Regions from separate parts of the Homo sapiens genome. Here region 2 is reported to be linked to region 1. Evidence: microRNA targets listed by miRTarBase, many of them from high-throughput screens and not tested one by one. Region 1 holds a microRNA gene; the other region holds the end of a gene's coding sequence.

The links. Region 1 holds the annotated microRNA hsa-let-7i-3p (CUGCGCAAGCUACUGCCUUGCU, at 3,249-3,270, opposite strand). A microRNA usually pairs through its seed, bases 2 to 8, with sites in the 3' UTR of a target mRNA and lowers its output. Matches are read on the target gene's strand: a 7mer-m8 pairs with bases 2 to 8, a 7mer-A1 pairs with bases 2 to 7 and ends in A, and an 8mer does both.
Region 2: miRTarBase lists USP48 as a target of hsa-let-7i-3p. The part of its 3' UTR that is shown has no 7-base or 8-base seed match.

The regions. Positions count from the first base shown.
Region 1 is chr12:62,602,631-62,607,016 of GRCh38, reverse strand. It overlaps MIRLET7I (microRNA let-7i), which reads right to left and starts at 3,331; the gene lies at 3,248-3,331. It overlaps LINC01465 (long intergenic non-protein coding RNA 1465), which reads left to right and starts at 3,583. Exons shown (of 1, transcript NR_121682.1): 1 at 3,583-4,386. MIRLET7IHG (MIRLET7I host gene) reads right to left here and starts at 4,274. Exons shown (of 2, transcript NR_186001.1): 1 at 4,182-4,274. RefSeq lists enhancers at 2,891-3,412, 3,413-3,934, 4,041-4,230, 4,311-4,386, 3,935-4,386 and silencers at 3,261-3,560, 3,651-3,960.
Region 2 is chr1:21,675,694-21,680,086 of GRCh38, forward strand. USP48 (ubiquitin specific peptidase 48) reads right to left here. Exons shown (of 27, transcript NM_032236.8): 27 at 2,605-3,746. The coding sequence ends at 3,724. Among named protein-coding and RNA genes, the nearest start is that of RAP1GAP, 8.5 kb to the left of the region's middle.

The DNA of each region.
Region 1 (4,386 bases):
GTGAAGTAGGTCACTAATGTTTTTCTCACCTGCCCACATTTTGATTATTTATTTAATTTCTTGAGACAGAATCTCAACTATTTTGTCCAGGCAGGTCTCAAACTACTGGGCTCCAGTGACTCTCCTGCCTCAGCCTCCAGAGTACCTGGGATTATAGGTGCACATCACTGCACTGAGCTCACATTGATTTTTTTTTTTTTTTGACAGTCTCACTCTGTTGCCCAGGCTGCAGTGGTGCAATCATGGCTCACTGCAGCCTCAAAGTCCTGGGCTCATGAGATCCTCCCACCTCAGCGGGGACTACAGGCAGGCACCACCACACTCAGCTAATTACATTTTGATTCTTAAACACTTCATGTGACATCTTTCCTGTTTTCCTTTGGGGCAATGACCTAGCTATACAATTATTTTGCTTTCCCCATGGTGCCCAATAGTGATAACCTAACAAAAACACTTAGTGAACTTCATTAGACAATCTTAGAAATAATTTTCAAATTTTTGCTTAATTATCTAGATTATCAGTAGCGCCAACAGCTTTTCAGAGTTTATGACAATGGTCATTAATTCTCCTTTTGGGTACTACCAATCTGGCCTAATTCATTTTCGAAGATGATTGTCCTATTTACCTTTTGTTGTAGAAATTACAGAGGGGATTATTCAGTGGGAAAGGAAATTAATAGTATCTCCTTTGTCAGCTTCACCATGGAGCGGGTGGAGTGTAATAAACAATAGCGGGAGAGAGCATGTAGCTAGGAAGAAATCTCAGCCTTTTTGGTGCTTTGTGCTTATACACTGAAGAGCTAATTTGTGCTGTCAGGTGCCTCTGTCAGGAATTCTTTGGGGACCACTCCACAAGACACAATGTCTTGAGTGCACCCTTGCCAGTCAGTCTTGCCTACCTGCCAAAAGGTTATTTTAAAATAGCTTGTAAACAAAGCTTTTCTATGTAAGATTAGCAATCAGGAATTTTAAAGTATGAAGCAAAACTGTGTTCTCCAAGAATCTTCTCCATATGGTGTGTCCTATATACCATAACACAGTCTCCATTTCCAATTGAGGATGACATTTATTAAAATGTTATTACCATAACCCAGCTTTCCTTTGGTTTAGTATGTACTTATTGAGAAGGGCACTCAAAATACTGCCTTATTACTTTCCACCAGTGGCTTTTTACAACTACAAATTACTTAAATGCTTGACAACAGACCTTTAACAAAAAAGTTAACTGCACCAAGTAAATGTCAATAATACTAAGTTCAGAAAGCTGTATTTTTGATAAATCAAATTCATCTTGTGGGAAACTGTCAACAAGGAAAATGTTCAGTTGGTAATTTTCAGTTGGTGTGTAGAGAAATGTAATTAGCAGATCATTTTTAAAACTGGAGATTAGAGCAGAAATATAGCTATGGGATTAAAACAAGTCAGCTGGTGGCAGTATTTTCTCTTGTAACTTAGGAAACAGTTAACCTCTCAAAGTACCTTTACATCCAATAACTCAAAAATGTTACTACTATTTGGGCAATATGTAGTTGTGGATAAAATTTACTTTAAAAACACAAGATATAAAGTATGAATAGTTTATCTGTATAGGACATTGAGCATTTCTGGTGTGCTTATCCGCTTAAAGTTTAAATTACCAGCAGAATTTGTTATACTTTGGGGTGCAGATTAACAACCGTTGATTCTCCATAAAAATGTTAGAGTGTAGTGGGTTGGAAGATTACCTCGGTTGGTTGAATGAAGTGTTTTGGAAAATAAAATCATAATGAAATTAGCATGTTATGATTAGTTTCTCCATAAACCAAGATTTGACACAGCACCGCAGAGGTTTTCATTATTTAAGAAAACAAGCACTTAACAAAGCCCTGAATTTACTCTGCGTTGCTATCAAGAAAAGCAAACTTCAAGAGCCAACATTCAAGCATTTTCTGCATCTTAAGATTCAAGATAAGGTTCTTCACCGCCCTTCCCACAATGAGGCGGCTCCATCCTGATGAGATCAGATTAAGTAAGGTTATTCTCAAGGCTAAACCAAACCCAATCAAGGCACATATATTAGATCACTTTTGAATGATAAAAGCATCAAACTCCTGCTGAAGGGTTTGGTTGGTTTAAAGAACTGCCTTATTTGTTTTTCAACTGAGCATCAGAAAACCATAGAAAACTGCGATTACATTATATTCAAAACTACTTATTCTGTACAAATACAGATCAGTTTTCAACGAAAAGTACTAAAACTGACCACTTACTTCCCTCAGTGAAAATAAAATAAAAATACAAGTATCTTGTTTTCCACGCAGACTTCAGGGTATTAGAGCACTGAGTATTTTCATTAGTTATCCAAACTACCTTTTTTCTCTATGCAAAGGTATTTTCCTATTAGGAGTAGTGGCCACTCAGGAATCAAAATGAGTGTTAGTAGATTTTAAACTCAAATCTAGAAACCACTTTCAATTCCTAGTCCTCTTCTCCCATACAAAACCTCAAAGATGTAAGTACCACATAACATTAGAATCAAAGGCCATAAAAACCAAAAAACCAACCCACCACACCAGCAGAATCTGAGCCCCAAGGTTAAACTAAAAAGAAAAAACAAAAAACAAAACCATTCACAGCACACTGTACATAGAATTTATTTGTTTGCCTCATACATTAAAAAATCGGAATAGTGCAATTACCTACAAATAATTTCAATCTTCTCATTCGCGAGTTGCAAAGTTTAAAGAGAAACTTTAAATTGCTTTGGGTTTACGTTTTTAAAGACACACTCAGATTTACTAAGAGAGCATATCAGAAACCAGATCTAAAATGTTAAGGCATAAACTTTAATTATCAGGTCTACTTCTTCTGCCCCTCTAATGCCAGTTCTGCAGATCGCTCACACCACTCCAACCTACAGCTAAAGAATGAAGTAAAACAGGTACACACTAAATTTGGCATTTAACTGCTGAAAGAAGTGTTAGAATTTTTTAGGGTGAAAAAGTTATCTGTATCAATTATCTTACACAATTCCACTCCTTCCTTCAAGAAAAGGAATCCAATGGCTTAGCTCTTTCCCAACCTTTAAAATGCATCGCGGTCCACCCCACTCCCCTCAATTCCTTCTAGGAAAATGTGAAACTAACGGTTTCCGTGGTGGCCGCGCCGGCCGGGCGCCGAGGCTTCGCGGGCTGTCCCCAGGCAGCGCCCCGGAAAACAAAGGGGATTCCCAGCCATTGTCCTCCGCGGCGCTGAGCATCACCAGCACTAGCAAGGCAGTAGCTTGCGCAGTTATCTCCACAGCGGGCAATGTCACAACCCGACCAACAGCACAAACTACTACCTCAGCCAGGGCCATGGTGTCGGGGAGGCACGGGACCACGCGGAGGGCAGCAAAGCGGCTCCGGCGCTCCTCCGTCCTTCCTCGCCGCCGACGTCGGCCCGCCGCCCCTTCTTTTCCTTTGCCTTCCCCCCGCGCCGCGCCCGGAGACCCCGCCCAGCACCCAGCGGCTCGGCTACTCCCGGCGCGCCCCGAGAGCTACGGGGATGAGAGGCGGCGCCGGCGCCCGGGTGATACAGCCGGCGTTCTGTACGTCAGCCACCGCTCTGAAGAGAGAAAAGCGGCGGTGTCCTGCGGAGAGAGCCGCTCCCTCCACTGCCCGAGGGGAGCGCGTCGCCTCAGCCGCTCGAAAGCAGGAAATGGGCGGCAAAAGCGCAGTCAGACACCAACTGGTTCTGGACTGCCCCCGAGAGGCAGCGAGCAGCGCTCCCGCGCTTCGCCCGCTAGGAGCTGCCGCCACGTCCCGAGCTGCGCCGCTCGCGCCCCTCCCTGCTCCGAGTCCCCGGTGGGGGCTGGGCTGCGGCCGAGTCCGGTACCCGGGCCCCCACCCGCGCCGCGCTGTCGAACCCGCCGCCGGCCCGCTCTCGGCGCCGATAATCGCCGGCGGGCATCCCGCAGAGGCTGCCGCCGGCTCCGCCAAACAGCAGCCAAGGCATAGCCGGGAAGTCCCCAGGCCACCCGTTCCCCAGCACCCTTCGGGGAATTCCCGTTCAGCTCTACAGGAGGCGAAAACGGAACAAACGAAAACCCCTTAACAGTGAAACCGGGCCCGGCGATGGCCCGGGTGGCGACTGCGACGACTCGACGCGTGCGGACACAAGACCCGTCTCGCGCTCCGCTGCTCCTGTGCGTCCGGACGAACCTTAGAGATCACTTAAGGAGGCTCGCGCGCTACTCCTCACCACGTGACCGCCCCGCCAGGCCGCCCCCCGCGCCGCCATCTTACATCCGGGACAGAGGCGGCGTCCCCTTTCCCTGCCTTGGCAGGCGTCAGCGTGCTACCAGAAATCAGCCCTGAAAGAGGGGACCCCGATTCCACGTCACCAGAGTGCTGAGGCAGCGGGCGA
Region 2 (4,393 bases), not on the chromosome of region 1:
CCACACTTTCAACACTTGCCTGTATGTTTATGTGCTATCTGGATAGCTAGCAGACTCCTTAGCCCAATTAACAGCCAGAATGGAAAAAAAAAAAAAAAAAAAATCCAAGGTTTGAGATATATGGGATGGAGAAGTGGTTTTGTCTGCCAATGAGACTGTCTACCTGGCACACACTACCTGACACAGAAATGTTGCTCAGGGAAATCAACAAAGTGCTACCTACCATTTTACAAATGTTTATAATTTGTACTTTAATGAAAAATAGAGGGTTCGAATAATGTTGATAAATCCCCAGCCAGTATTTCTGCCTACAGAATGTCTAGGAGATGGGTGTGTGTGTGTGTGTGTGTGTGTGCGCGCGCGCGTGTGTGTGTGTTTTGGGTGGGGGTGGTGATGCCAGCTTTCAGAAGTAGAAATGTTGTTGACAAAACCCTGTACTCTGGGGTGGGGGTGGGAGTATGGGGCGTTATCACAGACATGCACATTTTTTTTTTGTGACAAGGTCTCACTCTGTCGCCCAAGCTGAGTGCAGTGGTGTGATCACAGCTCACCGCAGCCTCGACCTCCTGGGGTCAAGCAATTATCCTGCCTCAGCCTCCAGAGTAGCTGGGACCACCGGCATACCTGGCTAATTTTTGCTTTTTTATAGAGATGAAGTCTCACTATGTTTCTCAGGCTGGGAAAATCTTCTTAAAATGAAAACGCTGGCTTTTAATCTGCATGCACTCTGTTCGCAGTCCCCTATTAACACTGAATGAGCTGAGGACTAAAGTACCCAAGAGAAAGGATATGATTCTGCCCCATGATTCGGTAACAGGAAAGACAGGCTTTCTTGCTCATTTCGCTTCAGCGGTTTGTTTAGACAGAGATAAATCATCCCTTGGGTTTTTAAAACAGGTTATTCAACCTGAGCATTAGATTCCAATATTAACCAGAGTCTGATGAACAGATCTATGACCACATAGACCAACCAAAAGCACATTTAAAATAACCAAAAAATTCACTATGGATTATGCTCCCACAGAAATAAAGGGACACTCATATCTTTTAAATTTGGCAGGAAGGTAACAGTAATTCTAAACAATAGAGTTCATAAATACACAGAAAGATACTTACTCCCCAGGAAATGAAGACACCCAAATGCAGCCTATATTTCAGTTCGTGGTGACAATCTGTACCAGTGTAGTATGCTGAACACATTCGTTTCAGATTAAAGAATGGTCAGAAATATCAAGGGGAAAAGACCCAAGCTTCATAATACCTTATACCGGAGACTGATCTAATATAAAAAAGTACACATGCATGGCATTAGAACCCCAACACAAAGAGTCTCTGAACTTTTCACAGTCCAGAAGGCAAATGGACTCCATCTATTCATAATTACAGACGAAACGAGAATCGGGCTTTAGGTCATACCCTTTACCTGTTTTTCCCTGTACCAAGTGAGAAGGGTGGCAATGCAAAACCATTCAATACAAGCATACGTTTCTTTGCAACTCTGCCTACTATGGGTGGGAGAGGCCCCAAGCCCAGGGTTTCAAAGAGTACAGGAGTGGCCTGTGGATGCAGATTCCGATTCAGCGGGTCTAGGGCCTGAGCTCCTGCCTTGGTAATAAAGCTTCACAGTGTCACTGGAGCCGCTGGGCTGCAGTTACTTTCAGCAGTGCTGGCAGAACAAGGCAAGTTGTCAGAGCAGGAGGAAGATGACCCTGAGCCAAGGGCAGACTCTTGCAGCATCACCTGCTCACTCGGTGCCCACCCCACCCCTGGACAGAGATAATAAAGAAGCCAGTACTCAGAGCAGGTACCACCAGCCTGAAAGATTTACAAAAGGCTGTTATTTCGTAGCATTGCAGGAGGAAAAAATACCCAAGTAACAAATTTCAAAACTGTTATCAACAGCAAATTGGGGAAAATATATCAGATTTCTGGGGGCTGCTAACATGTTTATGTCAATCCCCAAAAAGAACCTTCTCTGGCCAACAAGCTTCTTTGTAAGGAAAAGGAAGTGGCTTCAATCAAGCATTGTGCGAACTTTTATAAAAGTCTTTACCTTGGGAAAGAAGAAGTTTGTGTTATTAGTTTTAGGCTCCTGCATTCATTTCTTTGGAGCTAATAAAACAATGAGATCTAAAAATCAGGATCCATCAGCTCAACTTCAAGTCCTTCCCCTGTGCCAACCTCAAGGCCAGAACAGTTGGTCCCTTGGTTCCACTCCTAGGATGGTTTCTCAGGGGGCTGTGTGCAGCTCTCACCTTCCCCCATAGATAGGCTCATTAGAGACCCCCTGCCTCCTCAGGGGACACAGACTGAAGACATTAGAAACACAGAGGGGAAACACAAACACGAAGTTAGAATTTTACCAAATGGCCGTAATTACTCTGACAAAAGGAGCTATTCAAAAGGGATGCTGCCAAGGTTATCGGGTCTCAAATCAAAATCTGCCTTCCCCATCCATGATCTGAGTTCACATTTTCATGAAAGGGGGAAAAAGCCTTGCACAAACCCAAGGCCAAGAAAAGTGTTAACAAGAGAGATGCCTAAGCTAGCATCTCAGCCACAAACTTACACAGACGGACTCAACAGAGAAAACTTTTTTTTTTTTTTCAAAGGAAAAACTCCAGTCTTAAGTTCAATTAAAAAAACCCCTTCAATATTCTTAAGAATATTGCTTCGGTTACGTGTTGCTAAGAATGATAATCCTGAGTTGGATGGACAGCACATCCATATACTTTTTTCCTTTTTTAAACAATGATCTAAGAGACCCTCTCAGGGCATTTTGGAATAATGCTTTCAAAAAGAGAACTGAGGTCCAAGAAACAGTGACATGGAGGACAGGAAGAACAAATTTTATAGAAACCTTGTGTTATCCAAATGTACTTCAGTCTGATTTACTCTTCTGATAGGTAGTCAGATTTTTTATTTTCAAACGTGCCAGGTACATTTCCCACTTTTGAATAACAGCAAAACCGGAAGAGGATGCTTTCACACATAATAAATGTTCTCCATCCTTTCTGAAATGCACCAAAGCAAAAAGCCTCTGAAGTCAAAACATGAGACATAATTCCTTGCTCATTGCAGGAGACATGCAGGTGCCCCCTCCTTTACCCAATACCAAGAGACAGACGGCCGGGCAGGTGTAAGGCGGGTGGCGCTGCAGCTGACATGGAGAAGAGTCTAAATCTGAAGACACTTTTCCACACTTAGGACAAGTTCTTCACTTTCATGCTTTATTGAAAGTAGAATATGAATCAAAGACAGGCATTGGTAAGCAGGTTATGTCTCTAAAATTACTTTTCGTTCAGAGCAGAATGTTGTCCCATCTACTTGATACAATCCTTTATGGACCAACGCATCTGGTATGAAACTCGAGCAAGGAAATATAACAGAACTTTATTCCCCTCCCACGACTATAAATCTCATATGTAAACATGATTTACTATTACTGCTACTAAACTTGTTCCGTCTTTACTTGCCCCCTCCCACCCACCACCCCCCTTAAATATAAAATTGGAAACATTTCCTTCAAGTCTGATGTCCATCAGTGCAATCTGCTTTATTTGACATAAGGCATTTGGGACAGTCACGTTTGAATGGATTTCTGCCTTTTGGAAGGGGCATGTAATGGTTTAATTCTTAAATCCACCTTTGCTTTAATGCCCTAACATGTCAAACTCCTCTTCCCCTCTGGTCATTTCTTAGCAGTCAGCAAGTATTCAAAGATTAATGTCCAAGAAGACCAGTACCTGGGAAAAGAAACACACGTGGAGGGATAGTTGTGAACTACAGATTAAAAGTTCATGGATTCCATTTACCAAGAACACATCATCAACAGGGAGCATCAAATTTAATAAATGAACACAGTCGCACCTTGGTGTGGGAGGATAAGACAAAATACCAGCAGACTCCAGGCTCTCCGCTAAATCACATTTTTGTTGAAAGCCATGTGCTTCCTAAGTGTATCTTCACACAAACTAACCAGATTTTATTGATTCTTTCATTTAATGACCATTCTTCTTTTCTGAGAGTTTCACTCTTGTCGCCCAGGCTGGAGTGCAGTGGTGCAATCCTGGCTCACTGCAACCTTATCTCCCAGGTTCAAGCATTCTCCTGCCTCAGCCTCCCAAGTAGCTGAGATTACAGGCGCACGCCACCATGCCCGGCTAATTTTTGTATTTTTAGTAGAGATGGGGTTTCACCATGTTGGCCAGACTGGTCTCGAACTCCTGACCTCAAGTGACCCACCCGTCTCAACCTCCAAAAGTGCTGGGATTACAGGCGTGAGCCACCATGCCCGGCCAATGACCATTTTTCATAAAGACGTTTTTTGCTTTGTTTTGACCCCATCAGGAGTCCCTTTGTAATGGTAGCATGCAGACAACACAGCTGCAGC